Linked DNA regions of Homo sapiens. The protein of the gene in region 2 purifies or fractionates together with the protein of the main gene of each other region. This does not show direct contact. Each region holds a gene or a part of one and is shown on either strand. Other genes may lie near its edges. The genes, in order: DEGS1, CPLX2, ANKRD13C and SCCPDH.

Region 1 (7,487 bases), on a different chromosome or scaffold from region 2:
CCAAGAAATATGTGGTCCTTTTACTTTCCCAGTGAAATGGTTCAGTGATAAGTCTGTGGGGGGAAAAAAGGCTCAGTGTGAGGTAAGTATCAATCAGCACCTTCTCACTTCCTTCATCTCTTTTTCTTGAGACAGTCTCACTCTGTTGCCCAGGCTGGAACGCGGTGGGGCAATCACGGCTCACTGCAGCCTCTACCTCCCCAGCTCAAGCAATCCTCCCACCTCAGCCTTCTGTGTAGCTGGGACCACAGGCACATGCCACCATGTCCCGCTAATTAAATTTTTTTTTTTTTGGTAGAGATGGGGTTTTGCCATGTTGCCCAGGTTGGCCTCGAACTCCTGAGTTCAAGTGTTCCTCTCGCCTCAGCCTTCTGAGTAGCGGGACAGGCATGCACGCCTAGCTAATTTTTTAATTTCTCGTGCAGATGGGGCTGTTCTGAACTGGCCTCAAGCGATCTTCTTGCCTCAGCTTCTCAAAGTGCTCGGATTACAGGCAAAAAAAAGCCACCACACCCGTCCTGATTTTCAGAATATTAAGTAGCTCAGTTTCAGTATTCCAGAGTTGGTTTTTACACAGGTAGGACGCTAGATTATTCCTATGTAACATGTAGATAAGGCATTGATAAAATATATCATATGTGGCCTGGCAGGGTGGCTCACGCCTGTAATCCCAGGACTTTGGGAGGCCATGGCAGGCGCATCATCTGAGACCAGCCTGGCCAATGTGGCAAAACCCTGTCTCTACTAAAAATAAAAATAGAAAAACTTAGCCAGGTATGGTGGCGGGCGTCTGTAATCCCAGGTACTCGGGAGACTGGGGCAGGCAGAACTGCTTGAACCCAGGAGGGAGAGGTTGCAGTGAGCCGAGACTGGGCCACTGCACTCCAGCCTGGGTGACAGAGTGCGGCTCCGTCTCAAAAAAGTATCATGCTATCTCATATCAAGTATGTGTAAGTGATGTGCCAAACAAATTGCTACTGGCAGGCTGAGGTATGCGGACCACTGGAGCCCAGGCTGCAGTGATCATCATGCCTGTGAACAACCACCGCACTCCAGCTTGGGCAACAAAGCAAGACCCTTTCTCTAATGGAGTGTAGGGGAGGAGGAAGAAGAGGAGGAAGGGAATTCAAGAACCCAAAGTTACCGGGTGCAGTGGCTTACGCCTTTAAAATCCCAGCACTTTGGGAGGCCAAAGCGGACAGATTGCTTGAGCCCAGGAGTTCAAGACCAGCCTGGGCAACACGGAGAAACCCATCTCTACAAAAAATAGAAAAATCAACCAGGCATGGTGGTGTGCGCTTGTGGTCCCAGCTACTTGCTTTTTCTTTTCACTGGGCAAATGAATGTTGAGAAGAAAAACTAAGGAAATACTATATATAAGGAATAATTGCTCATGTTCAACTCACCGTTTCCTCAATTTAAAAAAAGTGTGTGTGTGTGTGTGTGTGTGTGTGTGTGTGTGTAAACGGGGGGCTCTCACTATGTTACTCAGGATGGTCTCAAACTTCTGGGCTGAAGCGATCCTCCCGCCTCAGCCTCCCGAAGTGCTAGGATTACAGGCCTGAGCTACCGTGACCGGTCCCCGTTTCCTCAACAGAGGTTAAAAAGCTCGTGCTCTGGCCGGGCACGGTGGTTCACGCCTGTAATCCCAAAACTTCGGGAGGCCAAGGCGGGCGGATCACCTGAGGTCAGGAGTTCGAGATAAGCCTGGCCAACATGGTGAAACCCCGTCTCTAACTAAAAAAGATACAAACATTAGCCAGGCGTAGTGGTGGGAACCTGTAATCCCAGCTACTCGGGAGGCTGAGACAGAAGAATCGCTTGAACCCAGGAGGCAGAGGTTGCAGCGAGTGGAGATCGCGCCACTGCACTCCAGCATGAGCAACAGAGTGAGACTCAGTCTCAAAAAACAAACAAACAAACAAACAAAAAACAAACACGTGCAGTCTCAAAAAACAAACAAACAAAAAACAAACACGTGCTCTGGAAGAGGCAACCGAATGCGCATTAGAATCCCCCTAGCATTTAGTCACGCGTTCTTATTTCATTTTTTAAAACAGCGATAATACCAACCAAGTAGAATTACCAAGAGGATGAAATTGGGTAATGTTTGTAAAGCATTCCACACAATCCCTAGCATATTAGGAGTAGCCTGGGAGAGATGAGCATTCTCTATGTAACACAGAAGGCCCGAATCCTCTGGAGAGTTAAGGCCTCTCAATTAGCTGTCAGGGGACCAGCAGGCCACGCCACATATTTTCCTTATTTGGCAAGTCTTCCATTTTCAGTCTTTTCATCCACAAAACCGAGATGGATGAAAAATGCCTACGAATCCGCCGTTCTTACGTCCCAGGCTTGTCGTGAGGATCAATGGGACAAGCGGCGTGAACCGACCAGGGCCCATCAAGTCCGAGAAGCCCCGGGGGGCATATGGAGGGACGCCGGCCCCCTTAACGGGCCCAAGGCCGGGACTGCGGCCGCCCCCGCCAGTACTGCCCGCCGGCGCCCGACACCCTGAGCAGGGCTCGCTGGTAGGCCCAAGGATGCCCAGGACCACACCCTGCCTAGCACTCAGGCAGCCCCAAGGCCGGCACCCGCTCACCTCGGCCCGCTCCGGAGGAGAGGGAGTGGTGAGAGGAAAGGGCGCCCACCTGAGGGCACAGGAATCTTCTAGCGAAAAGATCTACTCAAGGCTGGCACAGCCGGGGACACCCTTCGCCCCAACCGGCCGGCGTGGGCCTGGCGGGGACTCCCGCGCTCGGGGACGCGCCTGCGCCTCTTCGCGGAAGGGTCGGAGCTGCGCGGCTCCGAGGACCCGTCCCTCCCCCCGCTCCTCGCCCAGCCTCTCCCGCGCTGACCCGCGGGCTGGCGGCCCGAGCGGCGACGGGACGCGACGGGGAGCAGGCTGCTAACGGGCCTCCGGCGCCCACGACCGCGCAGGGCCCGCGAGGGGAGAGCGCGCCCCGGCGCCGGGAGGCCACGCACGCACATAACGGGGCGCCCGCTGGCCCTCACCCAGGATCTCCCGGCGCCGGTCGGCGTGCGGCTGGTCGGTGTAGACCCACTCGAAGTCTTCCCGCGAGACGCGGCTCCCCATGGCGACAGCGGTGGCTTGCAGACTAGCTGTCGGCTCTCGCTCCCAGCCGGCTGCTCAGAGGTGGCGGCGGCGGCGGCGGCTCCCCGGCTGGTGTGGTGTCGGCCGGCTGTGGCGGAGCGCGGAGGAGACGGAGGCGTGGGCGGAGTCCCGAGGCCCCGCCCCCCCCGGCCCGCCCGCCTGCCTCTCTGGGTGGAGGGCGCGTGGCGCTCCCAGGCCCCCGTGCGGGGCCGGCTCTCAGCGATTCTGGGACGCGGGGTTCTGAGCTTCGGTGACTCGGCCACCATCCAGGATGCCGCGTTCTTGCGAGTGCCCGCCCCTGCGGCCTGCTGCGCCGGAGCCCGGAGAAGATGAAAAAGGAAGGAATGGTCTCAAGTGAGATAAACCTGCCGCCCTAACGCCTCCGCGAGGGGAGCACCGGGCACGGCTACGGTCACACCGAGTCTGGAGGCCCCGGAGCCCTTCTTAAATGGCAGCTGGCCTAAGTTTTGTTTAATTTTTAAAAAGCAAATTAGCCATTGAGTCATATTTCGCTGCCTTCTGGAAATAATACCTCAGGGAAAAAATGCAGAGTGCGTGACAATTAAAAGCTAATCAAGTAAAAAGAAAACACCATTATTAAGAGGGGGTGATGATGTGGGATTTGTTGTTGTGCTTGAATTATTCTAGTGTGACCACTTCTGTTAAGAGATGATTGCTCAACCTTGCATCTACCTGTCGCAGAAGTAATCAACCACAACCTCTTCCTGAAAGAAAGGTTTTGAAACGAAACTAATTTTGTTTCAACATTAGTTACCACGTCTACATCAAAGAGCAACTTAAAGATTACAAAAAGAAGATAACCAAAGCAGGTGTGCCTCCTAGTCAAAGAACATGCTGTGCACGCGCACACGGCACACACACACACACAAATCTGATCGAGCCCCTAGATCTGACTGTTAATTTATAGAAAATAGAAAGGACATTTGGCCGGGTGCGGTGGCTCACGTCTGTAATCCTTGCACTCTGTGAGGCAGAGGCGGGTCCATCACCTGAGGTCGGGAGTTCGAGACCAGCCTGATCAGGATGGTGAAACCCCCGTCTCTACTAAAAATATAAAAAAATTAGCTGGGCGTAGTGGCAGGCGCCTGTAATCCCAGCTACTCAGGAGGCTGAGGCAGGGGAATCGCTCGAACTGGGAGGCAGAGGTTGCAGTGAGCTGAGACGGAGCCACTGCACTCCAGCCTGGGGGACAGACGGAGACTCCCTCTCAAGAAAAAAAAAAGAAAATAGAAAGGACAGAGGAATGTGTTAAACTAGGCCGTGGGGATGAAACTAGCAAGATCCAACTCTGGGAGACTATATGGGACAATGTCTGGGTTCTCTAATAAATGAAACTCAAGGCAAAAAAAGAGAAACCTGTAGATTAAAAGGAGTTTAAAAGACATACCAACCAATTGCAACGTGTTGACCTCATTTAGATTCTGATTGAAATAGTTTAAAAACATTGACATGAAATAATTGAACTCAGATATCAATTGGATATGTGATGATATTAAGGAATTATGAATTTCTTAAGTGTGATAATAGTATTATGGTTATAGTGGGTTTTGTTTTTTTTGAGACAGAGTCCTGCTCTGTTGCCCAGGCTGGAGTGCAGTGGTGGCCTCATGTCTCACTTCAGTCTTGACCTGAGCTTAAGCCATCCTCCCACCCCAGTCTCCCGAGGAGCTGGGATCACAGGCGTGCACCACCATGCTTGGCTACTTTTTTGAATTTTTGATAGAGATGGGGCCTCACCTTGTTGCCCAGGCTGGTCTCAAACGCTTGGGCTCAAGTGATCTCAAAGTATTGGGATCACAGGCATGAGCTACTACATCCGACCCCAGGAGCATTATTAATAAGTCCCTAAGACCCTCTCAGTACATTCACTTCTGAAATAGAGAGGGCCAGCACGGCTGAGACATCTAGCAGAGAAGGCTGTGAGAGCAGAGGGGAGACAGAACAGTGACACCTGGAGTGGAGGCCTGAAGGCTGATCAGAGCCCAGCGAGGGTCATGTCTGCAGGGCATGCTAGCAAATGCGTGGCTGGGTCAGCCTCCAGAGGGTCCCAGTCTCGAAAAAGGAGTGGGATTTGATGATGGATAGATACACAGGTCTGATCATGCAGGAGCTTTTTAGTTGTTAATGAAATGGTGGAGGAAAAAGAAGGTGGGGAGTGTCACCTGGAAAAGGACAGCTTTGTATTTGCCAAGTTTCATCTGGATTGGCAGATGGCACATGAAGCTGATAATTGGACTCAACTCAGGAGGAAGTTTTCAGGTGCTGACAAGTAAATGTATCCCTGCAGTTCAGAACGCAGTTGCTATCACAGGCATGTGTGAACTGGCACACCAGTCCAAAAGGTGTGCGGAGGCTTACGTCTGTAGTCTGAGCACTTTGGGAGGCCGAGGTAGGGGGATCGCTTGAGGGCAGGGGTTCGGGACAAGCCTGGGCAACATGGCAAAAACCCACCTCTATAAAAAATACAAAAATTATGCCGGGTATGGTGGCTCATGCCTGTAATCCCAGCACTTTGGGAGGCCAAGGCGGTCTCCAAGGTCAGGAGATCCAGACCATCCTGGCTAACACGGTGAAACCCCATCTCTACTAAAAATACAAAAAAAATTAGCCAGGCATGGTGGGGGGGGCGCCTGTAGCCCCAGCTACTTGGGGGGCTGAGGAAGGAGAATGGCATGAAACCGGGAGGCGGAGCTTGCAGTGAGCCGAGATCGCACCACTGCACTCCAGACTGGGCGACAGAGCAAGACTCCGTCTCAAAAAAAAAAAAAAAAAATTTAACTGGGCGTGGTGGCCCATGTTTGTGGTCCCACCTATTGCTGAGGCTGAGGTGGGAAGATTGCTTGAGCCCAGGAGGTCGAGGCTTCAATGAGCTGAGAAATGAGCTGAGATTGTGGCACTGCACTCTAGCCTGTGTGACAGAGTGAGGCTTTGTCTCAAAAACATTAAAAAATAAAAGAAAGAAAGAAAAATGCAGAGTTTGAAAAAAAATGTGAATCTGGATATACCATTTTTTTTTTCTGAGATGGAGTTGCGCTCTGTTGCCCAGGCTGGAGTGCAGTGTCAAGATCTTGGCTCACTGCAACCTCTGCCTCCTGGGTTCAAGCGATTCTCCTGCCTCACCCTCCCGAGTAGCTGGGATTACAGGTGTGTGCCACCACGTCCAGCAACTTTTTGTATTTTTACTAGAGACGGGGTTTCACCATGTTGGCCAGGCTGGTCTTGAACTCCTGACCTTAAGTGATCTGCCCTTCTTGGCTTCCCAAAGTGCTGGGATTACAGGCATGAGCACCACACCTGGCTTGGACATTCTTTTTTTTTAAAAAAAGTTACAATTCATTTAATAGCAACTGGTAATCATGAAATTTTCTTATTTTGTTTAAACCCTCTTTAAACAAAAGTCTGCAAATTAGCACTGATCATTTGCAAAAGTCATTACATATACTGCCATTTTTCTTAAGGTTGACCAAAGATAACCTAGAATTATAGCCGTTACATAATCACACAAAATGATTATATATTAATCAGACCTGGTTTATCACCAGCATTTATAAAAACAGACGTAGGGAAAGAACTAGGTCTAGGGACACGTACATGGTCTTAATATAGCGACTGTTTATCCTGTCCTGACTATTACAAAATCAATTTTGACATTCTAAAGTAAACTATTTGAGCTACAGGATTGTCATGGGCATTGATAGCTATTTTAATGATGTCTAGGCATGCTTCTTTAATTTGGACTTTTAAAAGTTCTTAATATATACGCGTAATAAAAAAGTAAGCTAAGAAGTATAGCCAGGCATGGTGGCTCACGCCTGTAATTCCAGCACTTTGGGAGGCCGAGGTGGGTGGATCACAAGGTCAGGAGTTCACGACCAGCCTGGCCAAGATGGTGAAACCCCGTCTCTACTAAAAATACAAAAATTAGCTGGGCATGGCGGTGGGTGCTTGTAATCCCAGCTACTTGGGAAGCTGAGGCAGAAAACAGCTTGAACCCGGGAGGCGGAGGTTGCAGTGAGCTGAGATTGCACCACTGCACACTAGCCTGGGCGACAGAGCGAGACTGTCTCAAAAAAAAAAAAAAGAAGTATAAATAAAATGCCTTGAAGTTTTAAAAAAAGATTCTTAATGGATTATCTAGCTTTCACATCTTTTCCTTAACCTTGTCAAATAATTTGTCTTGAAGCAAACATACTAGTTATTCTGGAAAAACGCTCTCCAGTCGGCTGTTGGAAGCTGTGGTGAATCGCAGCCAGCCATGATCATATTAGGAAATTTAAGATGAAGTAGTTTTCAGATGAGGGCAGCTGTACTTTTGAAATCAATATGGATTTTTCCTTTTCCATCTGCTTGA
Region 2 (7,000 bases):
CCCAAACATGCACACAGCAGCCTTCAAATGTCTCTGAATTCTCTCAAACACACGCTTCTACAACCCATCACATACCTAACACATACCCATCACTCCCAATACACACACTGTTTTGAAAACACATTCTTACACAAGCTAACATATACAGCCTCTAAACACGAGATGGATAGCACACACATATGACACAATTTCAACCCAAATACACCACCTCAATCAAGCACACATACACAAGGCTAACATACACAATCTGTAACACATAGATATGATGACTGCAACACACACAATCTCAAGACACACACACGCTCCAGCCCTACACATATGCATATGATCTCTGAACACACAATCCCTGTTGCAGTCTCTGCCACGCATTATCATGCATGCATGGATACAGTTTCCTCCCTCATGTGACCCCTCTTCCCTCACCATCCCCACACAACTGACTGAGCAGAAAGCTTTGATAATTTGAGTGGGGGACAAATGCCAGTCCCAGACGTCCCAGAGGAGAGTTTGTCCTTGGCCAATGAGATGAATGGATGGACGCCTTCTGTCAAGTGGGAATTGGCTTCTCACCAAAGGCTTGGGGCTTTGGCCAGGAAGCGTCCTCCTGGGGACCGTGGGGCCCTGGAAGCGCATGGACAGGACGGGGTGGGGAGAGGGGTGGATAGGAATGGGGGCAGCTTGGCCACACCAATGGAGGTGTTCCCCATGGCATAGACCATCGCTACCCGATGGCTCCAAGTGTTTTCTGGGGGCCTGGCAGCCCCTTGACTGAGCAAGCTGGGCCCAGCCTGGCAGTGGGGGCCCAGGACCTAAGTGGGGTGGGGGTGAGGAACAAGGGGCGTCCCTACCTGGGGTTCCTCCACAAATGAGCTAAAGTCCACAAAGGATCCATTTGAAGGGACCAGCTTGGCAGGGGCCATGTCTCTCCAGGTGGGGGCTGGGGAAGGGGGTGCCCCTGGGCTGGGTGTCACCAAGGAGATGGAAGAAGAAGAGCCCCAGCCTCCCACCCAGATCCCAGCCTGGCCAGAGCCAGGGCCTCTCAGCCTGGGCCTTCCCGGGACAGGCTTCCCCTGACTCCCTTCCTCAGAGCCAGGCCACTCAGTGCCCCTGCCCTGACCTGGGGGCCCACTGAGGGTTAGAGGCCAAAGGTCAGCATGCTGGGCAGGGCTGGAATGTGTCATTACTTTGGCTGGCTGGGGACAGTGGTCCTCCTGGCAGTGGGGAGCAGGGAGGAATGTATGGGGGTCACCACACTAGCACGACCTTAGGCTTCCTGAGGGGCCCCCCTGACCCCTGCTGGGGAAAGACTGTCCTCCCTTTTTCAAGCTACTTGGGAGTGGGGTGCAGGTGGATACCCTGGGATGAAGGGAGGTGTGAGGGAGAGCTGAGGGGGAGAAGCCCCTGGCCAGGGAAGAGGGGCAGAGGCCAACTGAGGTTTTCCCCTTCAGAATTGAGACTTAACCTAATAAAAAGAAAAGAAAGAACCAAAAAGAAGTAGTAACAGGTGGAGTAGGCTGGGGCAGGAGGCCTGGTTACTTCTTGAACATGTCCTGCAGCGGCCCGGGCAGGTATTTGAGCACCGTGTCCAGGATGCTCTCCTCTTCCTCCTCCTCCTCGTCCCCGCAGCCCGCAGGGATGGCCTTCTTGGGCCGGGTCAGGCTCCCCTCGCAGGGCTGCTCCAGGGCTGCTTTCTCCTCTGCTTCCTTCTCCTCCTTCTTCTTCAGCCCATACTGGGGAGGGGGAGGGCAGAGACGCGCATGAAGCGGGGTGGGCAAGGAGACAGCAGGAGTCTCATGATCATGCAGCACTGGCTGAGGTGGCCAGGAGTGCCTCCCAAGCCTCAGTCCTGTCATTAGTAAAGTGGGGATAAGGGTGTCTTCCCTGTAGGATGGTGCCTGGTCCTCAGTGGGAGAGACCATACGTGGGGTTTCCTTTAAAATTAACACCTGCCCATCAGAACTTCCTGCTGTGTTGAAACCCCCAAAGATCTGAACACATGGCGTTTGCCCATATATTTTGAGCCAAATTTTGGTGACGAATCTGACTTGAACCAATGGAAGACTACTTCTAGCCTTTATTTATTGCACGCACTAACAGACATGCACTGGACTGTCTGGAGTAGGGTGGCAGCCCCAGACCCGCTGGGAGTGACAGCTGACAGCACAAAGTGCTTAGGACACTGTGGTATTTTTCGAACATTCCCAAATTCAGAACTGCACTCATTTTTGGTCCCAAAGATCTGCAGTACGAAATGGTGGACCGTAGGGTCCACCCTCTTGGAGTACCTACTACGCGCATTCTCTTATTTAATCCCCAAAAGGATCCCTTGAGGGAGGTGACCTTGTGATACCCGTTTTGCTGATGAGAAGAGTGAGGCTCAGAACTAGGGCGAAGGTGAGAGCTGGGATCCAGGGGAGCCCCAGCAGGGGCTTTAGCTGGACCGGTTTTACCCGCTTGTGGCCCTCCCCAGGACGGGCGGGCGGGCGGAGCTGACCTTATCTCGGATCTGCTGCCGGACCTTCTCCCGCTCCGCCTCCATGCGCGCGTGCTTGGCCTTACGCTCCTCCTCCTGCTGCCGCAGCGCCTCCTGCCGCTCCTCCTCCTTTTTCTGCGCGTCGGGGTCCTTCTCCTCCTCTCCCCCCAGCATCTTCCCCATGTCCTTTGTGGCCCCTACGAGGAAGGGGTGGGAAGGAGAGGGCGGGGTCAGCTAGGGGTCAGGGCTGGGGAGAGAGGGGCCGGGTGGGCCGAGGCCACCTCCCACAAGGGTGGGACCGGCTGAGGACACGCGGAGGGGCGCTGGACCTCACCTCCAAGGGCCTGCTTCATGACGAAGTCCATGCCGCCGGCTCTGGTTAGCGTGCCTTAGCCCACGGCAGAATTTGCATGCAGCGCTCCTGGCTGGCCTGGCTTGGGAAGATGTGACAACCTGCAGAAGAGAATTGGGAGTCAGATGGGAGAGGCCTCTGCACAGGCAGGGCGGGGGAGCTAGGCAGACAGCAGCCTCACCCTGGTTCAGACACCAGGCACCCATCGCTCTGAGGTCAAGACCCAATGCCCTGCTGGAGGAGAAAGGAGATGGAAGAGAGCGATTTACTGGGCAGACACGTAGGTGCTGCCAAATAGCTTTTTGAAAGCGGTTTGGTCCCTATTTTAAAGCCTTCATCTTGACCCTATTGTTCAGATTTGATTGAAGCCAGGAGCATTGGAAAGAGCCTGGAACTTGGAGTCAGGCAGATCTGGTTTCCAACGCCACCGTCATTTCCTTATTTGCCATGGGACCTTCAGCAAGGCCCTAACCTGCTCGAGTCCCCAGTTTCCTCCTCTCTAAGAGAGAAATGGCAATGCCACCTTTCCCCGGCTCCGGCGGAGATTGGAGGGGGCCCAGCCTGGGCCACTGGATCAGCCCATCAAAAGACCAGCCGGTGTTACTGCCCCAGCCAATCGGAGGCAGCTGAGCAAATGAGAACAGCCAGCTTGGATAAACAGATCCTGACTTTTGAAATTAGACAAATGGAAAATACGTTATTTTTATTGTAATGTACGTGTAATTTTTATGTTTTATAGCTTAATATCGATTTTTATTTTGAATTTCACGTGGGAGTGTTGGAGACATTATAATCTTCTGGGGGCTTAGGGCTTTTAAACTACCTAGCACGGGCCTTGCAGGCACTCGGCAGACATTAGCACCCTACTCCTCTTCCTAAATCACCGGCTTTCAGTTTTTATTATATTTTTTATTATGTTTTTGCCTCAGAAGGGTTCTCCAAATAAAATCTTAATGGGATTCTCAATATGCAAAATATGTAAAAGTGGAACTCTTCCAGTGGAGGTGGTGGGGGAGGAAGAGCCTTCCCCCTTGGCCTCCTTACCATCTTCCCCCTACATCCCTGAGAAGCTGAACCCTAGTGCTCTAACTTGAGATTTTCTTTGTATTTTAACCATTCAGTTCCACTGTTCTTTAACAGACACAGATCTCTTTTCAAGTGTAGAGGGGACATCCGTGAGCTATCCAAAGTGTGAAGTAGCTTCATGGTAAGCTGAGGCCAGGCCTGCTCCCCAAGGCCTTTTGTCCCACACAGCCTTGCAAGGAAGAAAAAGGGTTCCTGGGAAAGGGTGGCAGATGTTGCAACCTTGTTGGGTTCAAGGCTGGATATTGCAGCCTGGCTGAGTTCAGGGTCACTGGTTGTTCTTTGATAGATTTTCTTCATTTCTCTCAAGATGAGAAGTCATATCGGTAGACTGAGATTATTTCATGATATGGGGCCCAAGAGCTTATCTACGTGATCAGACCATCTCATCTGATAGGTTGTTTTGGGAAGAGAAAGTCATGATGTGTAGGAAAAAAAAAAAAAAAAAGCAAAACACAAAACAGCCCAGGGGCTTTGGCATCAGACACACCTGGTTCAAAATCCAGGCAGCTATACTTACTGGCTGGGGGTCCCTGGGCAAGCTTCAGTTTGCTCCCTGCAAAATGGGGGAGTATTAAGGTTGCCCTTGAATGGACGTTTGAAGGAGAATGAATGATACCGGTCAAGTGCCTGGGGTGTTGCAGGAACTCATAAAATGTCAGCCGTTGCCGACTACATATTTGTGGAACAAGCCAAAAAGGAACAGGCTTTCCATGCTTTCTCAGAAATGCAAGAGAACCCACCCTCCTAACCCCGAATTCTGAGTTTGCAGGTTGCTCAGCTCAGTCAAGATGTTTTCGTTCGATTTAATACATTGTGAAAAAACTTCATTTCTAAGAACAGGAAATGAACAATTTAATAATCAAGTGATTTCAGAAACTCTTGGGTTCCTACTCTGTGTTTACATAGAGCTCAAGGAATTACCAGGTGGCAGTGGGAGATGCAGGGCTCTAATTTGAGATGTTCCAAATTGGTAGGCAGGGCACCCGGGCTTTAGTTGCAGCCTCATCCCTAACTTGCTGGGTGATTCTGACACGTCTCTCTCCTGGATCAGATGATCTTCCAGGCCCTTTCTCCCATGCCTCTGTTGAAGCAGTCTGCAGCATTTGAACTGCTGACAACCCCACTGTACCCTCAAACCTCCTTCTCTCTTGGTTCTGTGACTCAGTTCTTTCCTATCCCTGCTTCCCCTTACTGTTTCCTCTCCTCTCCTCTTTTCTTCTCTTCCTTTGCCTTTTCTGACTCCTCTTCTTCCTCCTGTCTCTTCCCCATAACTCTGACCTCAGCCCCTGCCTCTTTTTACTTTCTAATCTTTCCCTGGGAGAACTCATCCATTCTAGGGGTTTTAATGACCACTGACACTGATGACACCTAGACCTCTATATTCACTCATCCAGCAAGTATTAATTGAGCACCTACTATATGCCAGTCAATGTGTTAGGCACTGGGGATTTATAGGAAACAGGACAGACAAAGCCTTGCCTTCATGCAGATTACATTCTGAGGTATGTATGTGTGTATGTGAGTGTGGGGGTATATGCACACATGCGTAGGAAAATAAGCAATAAATAAGTAAAAAAACACATTTACCTTCTCCTGGATACCCTTTCCTGGATGTCTGTGGGCACCCCTCAAACTTAACATGCCATTTCTGTATCACCAAACTATCACCTTCTCCGGCCACCTCTGCTTGCCAGCATGCATTCATCAGACATTGTTTACCACTGCCACCCCTCCACCAGTTTGCAAAGTACCTCTACTCACCACTGAGTCTTCTCAATGCTTACATCCCTGTGGCTCTAAGTAGCTCTTCTTCAGCCTGCTGGGATTCTTTATCTGAAATTCCCGAGTCTGCCCAAAAATCCTGCTGCCTGATCCCAGCATGGACCTCTGAGCTGTTAAGCAGTCTCCTGTTCACTCTGTCTACACTCTCCCAACCAATTCTCCTTTTCTTAAGGCCCAAAATGCTACTGCCTCTTCCTTCTCAGCAGGTGACTTTCCCTCCACTTCACGGGCGAAAGTATAAGGGGTCTGAGCTCTGAGGTTAGGCATGCCTGACTCAGATCTTGAATCTGCCACTTTTTAAGCTGTGCAATAGTGAGTAATTGACCTAACCTCATTGATACTTGATCTTCTCTATAAAATGAGAATTATAATGGCACTTTGAAATTTTAGAAATACTCTATGGGATGTGTTTGCACATGCTGGGTGCTCAGTAAATGGTTGTAATAATCAAAACAATTAATGTCAGTGAGTGGGAGCTCCTGTAACCTCCCCTCCTTCTAGCTCCTGAGGAAGAAGCCCTCTCCTGGCTGAAGCCAATTCATCTACCTGTGCCCTGGATTCCCTCTCTTTGTACCTCACCACTCCCTCTTCCTCACATCTTCCATCCCTCTCCATATGTTGCTTTTATTCCCTCCCTTCTCTAACTCCTTCCCTAAATTCTGCGTTTCCCTTAATCCCACCCCTCTCACTTTGTGATGAAGTGATCTCCACATGGTATCTCCACATCTTCACCTCCCAGTCAAGCCCTACCTCTCTGTGAGACCAGAGCTCTGCTGCCTCTGCAGGAGCCCTGAAACTGCGGTAATCAGTCGCCAGAGGCTTTCCCATTGCCAGATTCAAGAGGGTCTTCACGGCCGTCATCCTCCTCCATCCCTCTGCTGAATCACATGCTGCTGCTGACTCCCTCCCCCCACCTTTTCCAGCTTTCTGGAATCTCCTCCTGAATTCCATGACACAGCACTCTTGTGGTCTTCATCCTACTTCTCAGATAGGTCTTCTCTCTCTTCTTTGCTGACTCCTTTCCTTTCCTTTAAAGTGAAGATGGTCTCCAAACAAACTCTCCCCTCCTGCCTCTCCTGCCCCTCTGTCTCCCTTGGGAATCTCGTCCACCCCTATTGGTTTAGTGCACTTCTTTAGCCACAGATACCTCCCTCTCTCTGCCTCCCCTCCCCTACACCTGCACATTTAACTCTCTGCTGGATGTTGTCACATGGATAATCTCAAATTCTGTCTGTCCAAAGATCAGTCTCATCCTGGCTTTCCCCACACACCCATCTTTTTCTCTAGTATGCCTTGTCCCAATCACC
Region 3 (7,488 bases), on a different chromosome or scaffold from region 2:
AAAATGATCTGTTCCTTTTTGGTATTATCAGGAGCCCACATCTTATAGAGATAGGGGAAGAGTCCCTTTTAATACTATTTTCTTTTTTTTTTTTTTTTTTTTTTTTTTTTTTGAGACGGAGTCTCGCTCTGTCGCCCAGGCTGGAGTGCAGTGGCGGGATCTCGGCTCACTGCAAGCTCCGCCTCCCGGGTTCACGCCATTCTCCCGCCTCAGCCTCCCAAGTAGCTGGGACTACAGGCGCCCGCCACTACGCCCGGCTAATTTTTTGTATTTTTAGTAGAGACGGGGTTTCACCGTTTTAGCCGGGATGGTCTCGATCTCCTGACCTCGTGATCCGCCCGCCTTGGCCTCCCAAAGTGCTGGGATTACAGGCGTGAGCCACCGCGCCCGGCCAATACTATTTTCTTTTAGGACACATGCTCAAGCAATGATAGGTGTTATTTAATAGTAAAGCTGAATTCTAGCTTCTGGGAGTGGACTAAAAGCTAGAATTCAGCTATAAAGCAACAGGCAGCCCCCCGCCCCCCCGCCGCCCCTGTGTGAGTTGATGAGTTACTTTTTTAGGGCTTCTTGATACATAAGGCAACCATACTTCCCTCTTTGCTCTGGCTCACCCCTGTTTTCCTGGCAGAATTGTCAGTAGTGTCACTTTCATTCTTAGATTTATTAATTTTGATGATAAATTCTATGTAACCCTAGTTATTATTTTCATGCAGCATGTGAGGCATGTTTTATTTCTGTTTTTCCTGTCTAGGGAAACCAAGAATACCAACTCACTTTGCCTTGTCTGTGATGAGAACTGAAAAACCTACAGAGTAATGAATTCTTACAGTTGCATTAGAAATTCAGTAGCCAGGGTGGATTTTTCACGGAGCCTTAAAGGAGCTTCCTGGGGATGTGATCAGCATCCTTTGACAGCAGGGCCAACCAGTTTCTTGGCTTTAGGACTGTGTGTTTTGAGCAGCCATTAGCTGGGGTGATCCTGATCTGGTGATTTATAAAGCCATGTGCAAGACTGAAGCACGTCAGTGTATTGTAAACTTTTTATTTTCAGTATTTTTCCTAATTTCGGCAAGTAGTGCTTTGTGGAATACTGTTTGAGACCAGCGCATTAGGCTAGACCATGACAGGTCCAGGTTACCAAAGAGAACAGTAAACACACAAATGTGTGAATCCATGAGTATTAGATACAGAATGATCTGTAAGGTTTCCAGGGTGTGGAGATATTGGTTGGGAAAGAGAGTATTAGTCCAAATCTGAGAAGTCAAATACAAAGGCCAAGAATTTAAATGGTTTATCAAGTTGAAGGATAAAGCAAGGTTTGGTATCAGATGGTTAGGCATAAGGTTACGGGTGTATATCAGAAGAGGAGTTCTCAATTCCAAGAATGTGGTCCATCCATTGCTGTCTGGTCTTAAATACTCTGCTGAGCTAGCAACCTGGTCTTAAAGGGATCGAATAATGTCAGACAGGTCTGTGTTCCTTTTCTTCCTTCCCCGTTCACTTTTATTGAGTAGCTACAGTAAGGGAAATGGTAGGAAACAAGGGAGCAGAAAGGGAAATACCCCAAATATGGGGAAACATCTTTTTTTCTGGGTCAATGAAATATGTGTGTGTATATATATATGTGTGTGTGTATGTGTATATATATATATATATGTGTGTGTATATATATTCAGAAAATATATATGTATATTCAGAAAAGTGAAATATAGCTAAAATGGATTATATCTTTAAGTAGTTTTGTTTTTTAATAGAATATTTTAAATTTAGTTTTTATCTATAAATTTGTTTTTATCTATAAATTTGACTTTGCAATATGGTATTAGCATCTTGGTTTGAGTTTAAAAGGAACAGCTTATTTAATTATTAGTGAAGTTTTATCAAAATTATATTTGTCAGAGTTTATCATCTACCCATGTTTCACAGGCTTGACACAACTCTCATAGACTTTACTGACATGAAGTGCCAACGAGGGGATCTAAGCTTCATTTTCAATGGGGATGCGGCGCCCTCTGAATCTTTTGTAGTATTAGACAATGAACAAAAAGTTTATCAGCGAATACATCATGAGGTGAGCATGTTGTCTTATCAATATTCCTTTAAATCATTAAAAAAAAAGTATAGGTTTTTAGCAAAACCTCAGTATAATTTGCTTAAAAGCTTAAGGTATAATTGAGATGGTTTGTTCCTAAAGCTATAGTTTCCTGACCACTAGCTTTCTTTTCTTTTTTCTTTTTCTTTTTTTTGAGACTGGAGTCTCGCTCTGTCACCCAGGCTGAAATGCAGTGGCGTGATCTAGGCTCACTGCAACCTCCGCCTCCCAGGTTCAAGCAATTCTTCAGCCTCAGCCTTCAGGGTAGCTGAGACTACAGGCGCCCGCCACCAAGCCCGGCTAATTTTTGTATTTTTAGTAGAGGCTTGGTTTCACCATGTTGGCTAGGTTGGTCTCAAACTCCTGACCTCAAATGATGCACCCACCTCGGCCTCCCAAAGAGCTGGGATTACAGGCGTGAGCCACTGCGCCTGGCCTATTTTCATTTTTTATATTTCTATCCTCTGGTCTCCATCTTGACCGGTCCATTGAGCCTGCTGAGAATTCAACTGATTATCTCCTAGATCAATGAACTCCAACTTCTCTTCATTCTCATTTATAGTTTTCATTTGTTGAACCTGTGCTGGACCTTTACCATGTATTATCTTTTTATCTTACCTTCTTTTAATGTTGTTGACCATCTTTATTTTATCTCCTTAATATGAATACTTCTTTTGGCTCTGTCTGCAGTCTTACTTTTCCTAACTCTTTGGCTACCTTTCCTTTCTCTGTCCTTTCCCTCTTCAAGTACGACATGATTTTCCTTCTCTCATGCCATATCTTTGTGTTAAAAAACCATTGATATGCCCTTGATGTGGTTCTCATTTTTACAAACTGCCAGAATAATCCCTTCCATTCCCACAGTCCTATAGGTTGATGATTTACAAATATATGTTTGTGTCCATACAGTTCTGAGTAGAGGCTTATCTGTTTAAATGCCTAATGGATATCATGTGTGTCTCCCAGGTACCTCAAAATTCACCTTATTTAAAACTAACCTTGCTACTTTTCCTCCAAACCTGCTCTTTTTCCTGTTTTTCCTCTTTTGAAGAATGATGTCATTCTCTATTCAGTTAGAAACCTAGGAGTTATTTTTGATATCTTTTCTTGTACTCTGTGTTTTCTCATCAGAGCACATATCTGGTCATTTCTTTCTCCTTAATGTCTCATTATTATTCCTCTTTTATTCACACTGTCACTACTGTAATTTAAACATTCATTATTTCTCAACTGGACCATTGGAAAGTCTTATAAATGATCTTCCTGGCTCCCTTCTCATCTGCTTCTAAATTATCCCACATGTTGGAGATACATTAAACTTTAGAAACACATTTATGAAACCTTAGTTACTTAGAGATACTTAAAAAGTTCCCCATTACCTAAAGAGTGAAATCTAATCTCCTTAGCACGGCATGGTTCCTTTTGTCACCTGAGTTTTGCTCACCTTTCTAGCCTTTTTCTTACCTTACTATTTTAGATACCCTCATACTGCACTCTTGGCAGTTTGTCAGATGTGCCAGGCTATTTGGGCCTTTATTCCTTTGTTCATGTTCTTTCCACTTCCTGGAATGCTTTTCTTTTTGCACCCTCACACCTGTAGGGCATGCACTTGGTGTTACTTTCTCTCCCACCAAATGACTTTTGTTGTCCTTATGTTCCTATTAAATCTGGAACCATAAAGCTTCTAATGTTACATTTACTGACATGGCTTTTTTCCCTTCTATTGGTCTAAGCTCCTCAAGGGCGTGGGGTTCTTTTTGTTGTATTCCCTGTTATCTAATACAGCATCAGTACATTCTACGCTATAGGTTGGTAAACTCTTTCTGTGAAGGAAGAGATAATAAATATTTTTAGATATTAAAATATATTTGTGGGCCATATGGCCTCTGTCACAACTACTCAACTCTGCTGTTGTTAAAAGCAGCCACAGACAATATGTAAATAAATGAGTATATTCCATTATCATTTTATTCATAAAAACAGGCAGCTGATTATAGTTTGCTTACTCATATGTGAGCCTCTCAGATATTTATTAAATAATTTGACCTCTTACTTATGAAATGACAACAGGATAGCCAACTAGGCAATAAGTGAATTGGAAATAGGGTCTTGAAAGAGAAGCTAGAAGTTAAGGCTAGTAGTCCATAAGTATTTGTGGATGTCATAGTATTACCAAAGAACTGGTATTAAGGGTACCAGTTTTAAGGTATTAAGGTATGTATGTACTAGTATTAAGGTATGTATGTATACATACATATATGTATTATGTATTTTATAATGCCTACAATACAGGAAAGATAAATTTTGAGCAGTATTCCTTAGGGCAGAGAATACTTGTTGTTTATCCTAATATGTATGTATGTATAAGTAATAACTTCATTAAATGTTGAAGCAATGTAATTAATTAAAACAGCAGATCTTTTTCAGTGATGTGGTTAAGAGATAGTCTCTGATTTATATAAGAATTCTGTTCCAAAAGTTTATTGAAAATAGGATGTTTGAAATGTAAGGCAAATTTGCTCATAGACAATGGGTTATACAGTGTTCAGTTTCCAAGCTAATATATAAAATTCTACTTGATTCATAATATATTTGAAGTATAGTGTTTAACAGTTCTGTTTAACTACTGCAACCTAACTTTTTTTTAAAGAATATTGTGTTCAGAATTAATTTGGGTTACCAGGAATACATTTTCACCTATTATGGCTTTAGCAGTAACACCAAGATTTTGCATTCTTTACTTGTAGGGGTAGAGGAAATGGTACTGTCCCAGGCCCAAGCCATTGCTATTTTTTTGTTTGTTTGTTCTTTGTTTTTTTTTTTTTTTGAGATGGAGTCTCTCTCTGTCTCCAGGCTGGAGTGCAGTGGCGTGATTGATCTCAGCTCACCGCAACCTCCACCTCCCGGGTTCAAGTGATTCTCCTGCCTTAGCCTCCCGAGTAGCTGGGACTACAGGCGCGTGCCACCATGCCCGGCTAATTTTTTTTTTTTAGTAGAGACGGGGTTTCACCATGTTAGCCAGAATGGTTTCTGTCTTCTGACCTCGTGATCCACCTGCCTTGGCCTCCCAAAGTGCTGGGATTACAGGCATGAGCCACCTAGCCCGGTCGCCAATGGTATTGTTTTTGGAAATTCAGGAAGGGACTATATGGGCTGGGCACGGTGGCTCATGCCTGTAATCCCAGCGCTTTGGGAGGCCGAGGCGGGCGGATCACGAGGTCAGGAGATCGAGACCATCCTGGCTAACATGGTGAAACCCCGTCTCTACTAAAAATAAAAAAATTAGCCGGGCATGGGGGCGGGTGCCTGTAGTCCCAGCTACTCAGGAGGCTGAGGCAGGAGAATGGTGTGAACCCGGGAGGAGGAGCTTGCAGTGAGCTGAGATTGTGCCACTGCACTCCAGCCTGGGCGACAAAGCGGGACTCTGTCTCAAAAAAAAAAAAAAAAAAAAAAAATCAGAAAGGGACTCTATGTAGGTTAAAGTTAGATGGTGAAGAATAGAAAATGGGCCTCTTGGGAACCTAGAAATAAGGAGGTTTGGAGAATGAAGGCTCTAACTATTGTAAACCCTAGGGACTGTTATTATTCTCCAGACAACTCCCTAGGTTTTGCCTTTTTTCTTCCTTATAACGTCTTAAATATTAGTTAGGGTATCTTTCTTGGCCTATTATGGAATAGAATCTCATCTTATACCTGCTCACTTACTCTTCTGTACTTGATCATTTAGTCTTCTGTCCCTGAAGCAAGCACAAAACTTTCCTTTTTTCTCATATAAAAAATAATTATTGCTCAATTATTATATACCAGCACTAGGGAATATGTACAGGATAAAACCTGAAGCATGACTACTCATTAAGTTTAGAAATTACGGTTGATATTTATGGATTCCTTTCCATTTTATAAGGAATACAGAAAAGATCCTTTCTTGCTTCTTTTCCTTCCTTCCCTCTCTGCTGCTTCCCTTCTTCTATCCCTCCCTTCAGTTCTTCCTTTCTTCCACTTACAATTTATTGGGAAAGAAAGGCTCAAATGACAGTGGTGGATCTTTGCATTAAGAAGAACTAAAGTAAGATTAATCTGTATTGAAAGAAAAATATCCTTTATCTGGGTTTTTTTCTCAGATCTGTCAAGTTAATTCTTAAAGTTGTTTTTAAAAATTGCTCTATGGACTATACAGTTTTATAATGGGTAATCTAGTACTGCTTCCATTACATATCTATAACAGGATAATAGTACCGTATTTCATGTGTCCTGCTTTTATAGATTCATAATTAGTCATAATGCTAACTTAGAGAAGATATTAATATGTACAATTTAAACATCTAATTCTTTTTAGAGTAAGTAACACTTCACATTATTTAGAAACTATCCTTTTTGTCTTTAAAAATTGGTACCATTATAATTGTTGATATTTTCATATGTAGTACTAAGAACTTTTGAAAAACCTAGATTTTTATATTTAACTTTTGCTCACATCCCAGGAATCAGAGATGGAAACAGAAGAAGAGGTGGATATTTTAATGAGCAGTGATATTTACTCTGCAACTTTATCAACAAAATCAATTTCTTTCACGCGTGCCCAGACAGGATGGCTTTTTCGGGAAGATAAAACAGTATGTGCAAATCTAGATTTTTAAACTTTAAGCATTGTTCGGTATTTAATATTTCCAAAATAACGTGATGGAAATGCAAGAAGTAGCTTACAGAATTGTCTCCAAGTAGTTTTTTTCTCTCTTCCTTGAATCCAGATAAGGAATTATAATGGATGGTTAGAGTCAGAATGTGTCCTTGGAGAATTCAGGAAAGAAAGCTGAGCTCATTTGAATTCTGTGTCAGGAAGGACTCTTATTGCTAGCTGTCTTGTTATTATACAGGGAACAATGTTTTCACATGATTCCATTATATTTCTAGTGCTTTATTCGATAAGAAGACTACAAAAAGGGATAAACTTGACTCTATTTCCCTGAACCTGTTTGTCTCCCTACTTTAGACTTCTCATTTACTTAATATTTTTTTCTTGTATTCTATACATATGAGTAAGATTAAATAACCTTACATTTCTGCAACACTGTAGAATTGTTAAATCAAATCTCGGGGGAAGTTTCCCCATTAGTGTAAATTATTTCCATAATTCCCATTGTATCTGTCAGCAAGAGGTTATATAAGACTATTCAAATATATATTCGGAAAATTTTGAGGCTAGGCGTGGTGGCTTATGCATGTAATCCCAGCACTTTGGGAGGCCGAGGCCGGCGGATCACGAGGTCAGGAGTTCGAGACCAGCCTGGCCAACACGGTGAAAACCTGTCTCTACTAAAAATACAAAAATTACCCGGGCGTGGTGGTGCATACCTGTAATCCCAGCTACTCGGAAGGCTGAGGCAGGAGAATCG
Region 4 (8,267 bases), on a different chromosome or scaffold from region 2:
CTAAAGCCATAAAAACCCTAGAAGAAAACCTAGGCAATACCATTCAGGACATAGGCGTGGGCAAGGACTTCATGTCCAAAACACGAAAAGCAATGGCAACAAAAGACAAAATTGACAAATGGGATCTAATTAAACTAAAGAGCTTCTGCACAGCAAAAGAAACTACCATCAGAGTGAACAGGCAACCTACAAAATGGGAGAAAATTTTCGCAACCTACTCATCTGACAAAGGGCTAATAACCAGAATCTACAATGAACTCAAACAAATTTACAAGAAAAAAACAAACAACCCTATCAAAAAGTGGGCGAAGGACATGAACAGACACATCTCAAAAGAAGACATTTATGCAGCCAAAAAACACATGAAAAAATGCTCATCATCACTGGCCATCAGAGAAATGCAAATCAAAACCACAATGAGATACCATCTCACACCAGTTAGAATGGCAATCATTAAAAAGTCAGGAAACAACAGGTGCTGGAGAGGATGTGGAGAAATAGGAACACTTTTACACTGTTGGTGGGACTGTAAACTAGTTCAACCATTGTGGAAGTCAGTGTGGCCATTCCTCAGGGATCTAGAACTAGAAATACCATTTGACCCAGCCATCCCATTACTGGGTATATACCCAAAGGATTATAAATCATGCTGCTATAAAGACACATGCACACGTATGTTTATTGTGGCACTATTCTGTTGCGGGAAGTCAGGGACCCTAAATGGAGGGACTGGCTGAAGCCATGGCAGAAGAACGTGGATTGTGAAGATTTCATGGACATTTATTAGTTCCCTGAATTAATACTTTTATAATTTCTTATGCCTATCTTTACTGCAATCTCTAAACATAAGTTGTGAAGATTTCATGGACACTTATCACTTCCCCAGTCAATACCCTTGTGATTTCCTATGCCTGTCTTTACTTTAATCTCTTAATCCTGTCAGCTGAGGAGGATGTATGTCACCTCAGGACCCTGTAATAATTGCATTAACTGCACAAATTGTACAGCATGTGTGTTTGAGCAATATGAAATGTGGACACCTTGAAAAAACAACAGGATAACAGCAATTGTTCAGGGAATAAGAGAGATAACCTTAAATTCTGAGTGCCGGTGAGCCGGGCAGAACAGAGCCATATTTCTCTTCTTTCAAAAGCAAATGGGAGAAATAACACTGAATTCTTTTTCTCAGCAAGGAACATCCCTGGGAAAGAGAATACGCACCTGGAGGTATAGGCCTATAAACAGCCCCCCCCCAGGTGCACCTGTCTTTTATGGTTGAGACTGCAGGGGATGAAATAGACCCTAGTCTCCCATAGGGCTCCAAGGCTTATTAGGAAGAGGAAATTCCCGCCTAATAAATTTTGGTCAGACCAGTTGATCTCAAAACCCTGTCTCCTGATAAGATGTTATCAATGACAGTGGTGCCCGAAACTTCATTAGCAATTTTAATTTTGCCTCGGTCCTGTGGTCCTGTGATCTCGCCCTGCCTCCATTTGCCTTGTGATGTTCTATTACCTTGTAAAGTACTTGATGTCTGTGACCCACACCTATTCACACACTCCCTCCCCTTTTGAAAATCCCTAATAAAAACTTGCTTGTTTTTGCGGCTTGTGGGGCATCACAGAACCTACTGACATGTGATGTCTCCCCCAGACGCCTGGCTTTAAAATTTCTCTCTTTTGTACTCTGTCCCTTTATTTCTCAAGCTGGCCGACACTTAGGGAAAATAGAAAAGAACCTACGTGAATATCGGGGCAGGTTCCCCAATACTATTCACAATAGCAATTCTTGGAACCAAGCCAAATGTCCAACAATGTTAGACTGGATTAAGAAAATGTGGCATATATACACCATGGAATACTGTGCAGCCATAAAAAGATGATGAGTTCATGTGCTTTGTAGGGACACGGATGAAACTGGAAACCATCATTCTCAGCAAACTATCACAAGGACAAAAAACCAAACACCACGTGTTCTCACTCATAGGTGGGAATTGAACAATGAGAACACATGGACACAGGAAGGGGAACATCATACACCGGGGCCTGTTGTGGGGTGGGAGGAAGGGGGAGGGATAGCATTAGGAGATATACCTAATGTTAAATGATGAGTTAATGGGTGCAGCACACCAACATGGCACATGTATACATATGTAACTAACCTGCACGTTGTGCACATGTACCCTAAAACTTAAAGTATAATAAAAAAAAGATTTATCATGTATTCTTAACATTTTGTGTGCATATACATACATTGTTTTGTCTTAAATATACTCTTGTAATGTTAGGAAATTTGGAAGATTTTCCGTGTCACTATACACAGTTTTGTTTTGTTTTTTTTTTTTTAGAAACATAGCCTTGCTCTGTTGCCCAGGCTGCAGTGCAGTAGTGTGATCATGATTTACTGTAACCTCGAACTCCTGGGCTCAAGCAATCTTCCCACCTCAGCCTCCCAGGTAGCTAGGACTACAGATGCACATCACCACACCCAGCTAATTAAAAAAAAAAATTTTTTTTTTTTTTTTTTTTTTTTTTAAGAAATGGGGTCTTGCTACATTGCCTAGGCTGGTCTCAAACTTCTGGACTCAAGTGATCCTCCTGCCTTGGCTTCCCAAACTGCTGGGATTACAGGCGTGAGCCACTGTGCCCAGCCTACTTCATTCTTTTGTTTTTGTTGTTGTTGTGTGTTTTTTACCTAGAACCACCTGAATAGTCATTCTTCATTCTTTATAGCTGCACAGTTCCTATTGAATGAATAGGACACCATAATTTATTTAATAATTCCTCTGATAAAGGACATTTCAGTTATTTCTACTTTTTGTTATTACAAAGCAATGCTGCAATGACCATTATGTTAGTCCATTTTTGCGTTGCTTTAAAGGAATGCCTGAGGCTGGTTAATTTATAAAGAAAAAAGTTTATATTTTGGCTCATGGTTCTGCAGGAAGTACATCAAGTGTAGTGCCAGCATCTGCTTCTGGTGAGGCCTCAGGAAGCTTCCAATCGTGGCAGAAGGTGAAATGGAGCCAATGTATCACATGGTGAGAGAGAGACCAAGAGAGAGAAGGATGAGTGCTCTTTCAACTACCAGCTCTTGTATGAACTTATGCAGAGAGAACATACTCATTATCCTGGGGATGGCACCAAGCCATTCATGAGGGATCCACCCCCATGACCCAAACATCTCCCACCAGGCCCCACCTCCAATGCTGGGGATTACATTTCAACATGTGATTTGGGGGGGCCAAACATCCAAACCATAGCAAGCATGCTTCCCAAAAAACAAAATATATATATATATATATATATATATATATATATATATATATATATTCTGTTTTTTTAGGGTTTTTTGTTTTCTTTTGTTTTTATTTTCTTTTTAGAGACAATATCTCACTTTGTCACCCAGGCTGGAGTGTAGCTCACTATAACCTCCAACTCCTAGGTTCAAGCAATCCTCCTGCCTCAGCCTCCCAAGTAGCTGGGACTAAAAGTGCATGCCACTGTACCTGGCTCTGTAAGATTATTTTTTAGTGACTGTTTACTCCACTAGAATGTAAACTTCTTGAGGGCAGGGGCTTTATTTGTTGCCATATCCCCAGTACTTTATTCCTAGTGCCCAGTATATAGTTAAGTGTTTAATAAATACTTGAATGCTTACTACTTTACACCCACCAGATGGACAAGCATGAAGTCTGAGAATACCAAGTGCTGACAAGCACGTAAAGCAAGAGGATTCTTGTATCCCGCTGAGAGCGAAAATTAGTGCATGTGCTTTAAAGAGCAGTGAGATAACTCAAATATGGATATTCTAGCACCAACCATTTTCATTCCTGACACATATTCAATACACTTTCGCACAGGTGCTTTAGGAGAAAGGTACAAGAATTTTATTGTAGCATTCTTTGTATTATATTGCACAAAAGCACTATACAACATTGTACAAAAGCATTGTAGAATTTGGTGTATTTCTCTCTCTCTCCCTCTCTCCACACACGTATCACAGACATTTTTTTTTATTCTGAATCATTTGGGAATAAGTTCACGACATCATGACCAAATAAGAAAGCTGCAGGATTGACATTTACAAAATATTCAAAATATGCAAAACGGTACTATAATATTTATAAATACATACATATATAACAAGCAGAAAGATAGGAATAGGAATAATAAACACTAAATTCAGGCAAGTGGCCGTCTTGGGGACGCAAAAGGAAATGTGTTCAGGAATGAATACCTGGAAGCCTCGCTATCTGGAATATTTTTCTTAAGCTGTGTTGAGGGTACATATTTGTTATTGGCTGTACCTTTTTTGCAAGACATATATTTCAAAATTTTTAAAAGCATTCATTTATTCCTATTTTAATGAGAGTTTTTAAAAATCAGGAATGGGCTGGGTGCAGTGGCTCATGCGTGTAATCCCGACCCTTTGGGAGGCCGAGGTGGGTGGATCACCTGAGGTCAGGAGTTCGAGACCAGCCTGGCCAACAAGGTGAAAACCCATCTCTACTAAAAACACAAAAATTAGCAGGGCGTGGGGGCGCTCCCCTGTAATCCCAGCTACTCGGGAGGCTGAGGCAGAATCGCTTGAACCCAGGAGGCGAAGGTTGCAGTAAATCGAGATCGCGCCACTGCGCTGCAGCCTGGGCGACAGAGTGAGACTCCATCTCAAAAACAGAAAAGAGAAAAGAAAGGGAAAAAAGGGAAGAAAGAAAGGAAGAAAGCAAGCAAGCTCAAGGGTTCTCGGGGTGGGCCATCCCCGAGGCCATCCGCAGATTTTCTCGCACTCTTTGCTCCACCCCCACGTGCAACAAGGACAACCGGCTGCCGCCTCCAGCTTCCAGCAGGGCTAGAAGATGCGCTGCCCGGGGCGGCCAGAGCCCTGCAGAACAAACCGCCGCACGGAATTAGGGGCCGCCGTCCGCGCCTGCCAGGCTTGGAAGCGGACTCGCCCCCAGGGCCACCGCCCTAGGAAACCTCCCGTCGGAAGCCTCCCAAGCAAGCCGCTCACCCGCGGCTCCCGCGCGAGGCGGCGTGGGCGTGGGCGCGGCCCTGGCGCGGCGGCGCGCGCGGGGTGAAGGGAGCCCGGCGCGCTGGCTGCGGCGACGGCGGCCGTTGCTGCGCCGGGTACTGGGGTCGCTGCCTGAGGCGCAGGCGCCGTGGACTCCACCCGCCCCGGGGCCTGGGCTCGCTGTGGACTCGTCATGGCGACCGAGCAGAGGCCTTTCCACCTGGTGGTGTTCGGCGCGTCTGGCTTCACCGGCCAGTTCGTGACCGAGGAGGTGGCCCGGGAGCAGGTGGACCCGGAGCGGAGCTCCCGCCTGCCCTGGGCCGTGGCGGGCCGCTCCCGGGAGAAGCTGCAGCGGGTGCTGGAGAAGGCGGCCCTGAAGCTGGGTACAGCGGCGGGGCGGGACGGGGCTGCGCGGGCGGCTGGGCCGGGGACCCCGCATCGCCCCAAACGAGCGTTTCTCCCGCAGGGATGCGCCCTACGTGTCCCCGAGCCCTGCGTGAGGACAAGAAGAGGAGAGGGAGAGATGTTTCAAATACTGCCATAGCTTTGTCCCACCTCCTTAACTATATGTGTGTGTGCGCGTGCGTGTATAATATACACACACATTTTTTTTTCTTTCCTTCTCCTCTTTCCCGCTTTTTGCATTTCTGCCTCAGTTTGGGGAGCTCCCCTGGCGAAATGGTCAAGAACTTGAGTTGTCCCTCTCTCTGCTTCATCCTGCCCCGCAGCGGGGGCACCTGTTGAATCTGCGGGTTTCTAGATGTTTGGTCGGAGAGGAGAGGAGGGCTTTGGTCTCTTGGAGATCGGAGTCTCCCTTTGCCTCGTGTTTTGAGGACGGGAGAGCAAGCTTACGAGTTGTACTGACAGTGTCTTTGTGGCTATTCTGTTTTAGTTTCTTGTTTTGTGTGTAAGAATACTCCAGCAGTCTTCCTCTTCAGAGAATAAAAAGTGTGTATTTCTGGTTTAGACGCTTACGTATTCTCTAAGCATTCAGGTAGCATGTATTTATTGATAATCTAAGCATTCAGGTAGCATATATTTATTGATAATCTAAGCATTCAGGTAGCATATATTTATTGATTCTCTAAGCATTGAAGGAGCATATATTTATTGAGTGACGTTGTCCATGCTAAGACCTGTCCCGAGTCTGGGGTGCAGGATGGGACAGAGAGGAGACAGACACACGGATCCTGCTGCCTTCATGGCTGGGGAGACATCTGACTTACGACTCCGTAGCCTTTAAATTTGGCTATTAACTCCCGTAGATTTCCCTTATACAGACACCCATTAGAGTTCTGGAAATACTACATTCTTTCTGTTTAATCTACTTTCATACAATGCCCTGCTCGGAGTGCTTTTGTTCGTGGTTATGTACAGAAGACACCACGTAGGCTGGACTCTCCTACAGCTTTTGGTGCTGACACTACCAACACGTAATTCTGACCAAAGAGCTTTTTGGTCGTTATTTTTCCAACAGAAGTAATTTTACTATGAAAATATATGCTTCCATTTCTTTTTTCGGCTCAGCAAGATCGTACCGGTACAGCCTAGTCACTTATCATATATAATGCCCAAATCAAGTTTCATTGTGGGGGGATATACCTTCACCTATTGAAACCTGCATCACTTAGTTGAGCCAGTTAATTCCAATTATTTTCTTATGAGCCTGTGTGTGTTTATATAGCGTGTGCTTTTCACCTCAGAGTTCTAATTTTTTGTTTTTTGTTTGTTTGTTTGCCATTCTCCTGCCTCAGCCTCCTGAGTAGCTGGGACTAGAGGCGCCCGCCACCACGCCCTGCTAATTTTTTTAGTAGAGACGGGGTTTCACCGTGTTAGTGAGGATGGTCTCGATCTGCTGACCTCGTGATCCACCCTTCTCGGCTTTCCAAAGTGCTGGGATTACAGGCGTGAGCCACTGCACCCAGCCCTGATGGTTTTGATGTTAACAGTCAGTCCGAAACTCTCCATCACCTACAATTGGATCATAGTAATTGTTTAGTGGTTGATGAGAAACTTTATTTTTTTAAAGACAAGTTCTCATTCTGCCACCCAGGCTGGAGTACAGTGGCGTGATCACAGCTCACTGCAGCCTTGACCTCTGTGTCTAAGTGATTCTACCGCCTCAGCCTCCTGAGTAGCTGGTACTACAGGCTATGCCACCATGTCAGATAATTTTTTTTTTTTTTTTAGTAGAGACAAGGTCTTGCTATGTTGCCCAAGCTGGTCTGGAACTCCTGAGGTCAAGAGATCCTTGCACCTTGACCTTCCAAAGTGCTGAGCCACTGCCCCTGGCCAAGAAACTATTTTATGACATAAATTTCTTGTTGGAGAGGAAGTCTGGATAGTTATCTGCTCAGCATTTAAACTTGATTGTGAAATTGTCATGTTACACAGGGTTGTTATTTACACAACGCTTTGATTCGATTTTTTTTAAAAGGTCAGTTTTTTAGTAACTCTTAGTGTTAACTCAGTTTTCCTCATAATTTTTTCCTTTTGTATTACCTGATTAAAAACAGTTTTATCTTTTGTCTAAGCAGGAGAGCTAGCTTTCAGCATATCAGTGTATTTAGTAATTTGCTGTCACTGATTACTGTAAAAAGAAGATAAGGAAGATATAATCCTCTACTGGGATTTACTTTCCTTCATTTGTTTCTTATTTTAGGAAGACCAACACTGTCATCTGAAGTTGGAATCATCATCTGTGATATTGCTAATCCAGCCTCGCTTGATGAAATGGCTAAACAGGCAACAGTTGTCCTCAATTGCGTAGGACCAGTAAGTAATCAACCCTTCTTTGTATCAGAACAAACAATCCATTCATTTCTAGCAAAATATTCCAGAGGAACATAAGGACAGAGGACAGAATTGTTGGTTGAAGGCCTTAACCCCATATGGGGAGTTTTTTCTTCTTGCGAGGAGCAGCTGGAGATGACCAAAGTCTCCTGAGAGAGTGAGTGACAGGCTCTCCATGACGTTCTCCTTAGGGCATGTGTGCTGGCTTGTTGATTGGTTACATCTGTGATTGTCAGAATTTTCTTTCCTTTTTACTATATACCCCTTCGGTAAAAAATGTTTGAGTGTGTCTCCCTAGTATATTTTTTATTTATAAATTATATTCTTGTACTACTGGGTAAATATATTTTTTAAATGCACAAAAAGAAGACTAAAAAACGACTCATTTATTGAATAAATATTTATTGATGCTTACCACATGTGAAATGCACTATTGTAGGCACCTGGGACACAATGGTGAA

What was found.
Region 1: the proteins of CPLX2 (region 2) and DEGS1 purify together in Homo sapiens (affinity purification with mass spectrometry; 2 studies listed by BioGRID and IntAct, with this or other methods). This does not show direct contact.
Region 3: the proteins of CPLX2 (region 2) and ANKRD13C purify together in Homo sapiens (affinity purification with mass spectrometry; 2 studies listed by BioGRID and IntAct, with this or other methods). This does not show direct contact.
Region 4: the proteins of CPLX2 (region 2) and SCCPDH purify together in Homo sapiens (affinity purification with mass spectrometry; 2 studies listed by BioGRID and IntAct, with this or other methods). This does not show direct contact.

The regions. Positions count from the first base shown.
Region 1 is NC_000001.11:224,178,947-224,186,433, reverse strand, and holds the start of DEGS1 (sphingolipid delta(4)-desaturase DES1), read right to left. Parts: upstream 3,195-7,487; 5' UTR 3,098-3,194; coding exon 3,016-3,097; intron 2,755-3,015; exon of another isoform or gene 2,603-2,754; intron 1-2,602. UniProt on the Homo sapiens protein: Has sphingolipid-delta-4-desaturase activity. Converts D-erythro-sphinganine to D-erythro-sphingosine (E-sphing-4-enine). Catalyzes the equilibrium isomerization of retinols.
Region 2 is NC_000005.10:175,874,578-175,881,577, reverse strand, and holds part of CPLX2 (complexin-2), read right to left. Parts: intron 2,927-7,000; 5' UTR 2,839-2,926; coding exon 2,808-2,838; intron 2,671-2,807; coding exon 2,495-2,670; intron 1,731-2,494; coding exon 1,533-1,730; 3' UTR 1-1,532. UniProt on the Homo sapiens protein: Negatively regulates the formation of synaptic vesicle clustering at active zone to the presynaptic membrane in postmitotic neurons.
Region 3 is NC_000001.11:70,295,350-70,302,837, reverse strand, and holds part of ANKRD13C (ankyrin repeat domain-containing protein 13C), read left to right. Parts: intron 1-1,929; coding exon 1,930-2,074; intron 2,075-6,576; coding exon 6,577-6,708; intron 6,709-7,488. UniProt on the Homo sapiens protein: Acts as a molecular chaperone for G protein-coupled receptors, regulating their biogenesis and exit from the ER.
Region 4 is NC_000001.11:246,719,217-246,727,483, forward strand, and holds the start of SCCPDH (saccharopine dehydrogenase-like oxidoreductase), read left to right. Parts: upstream 1-5,192; 5' UTR 5,193-5,206; coding exon 5,207-5,396; intron 5,397-7,675; coding exon 7,676-7,788; intron 7,789-8,267.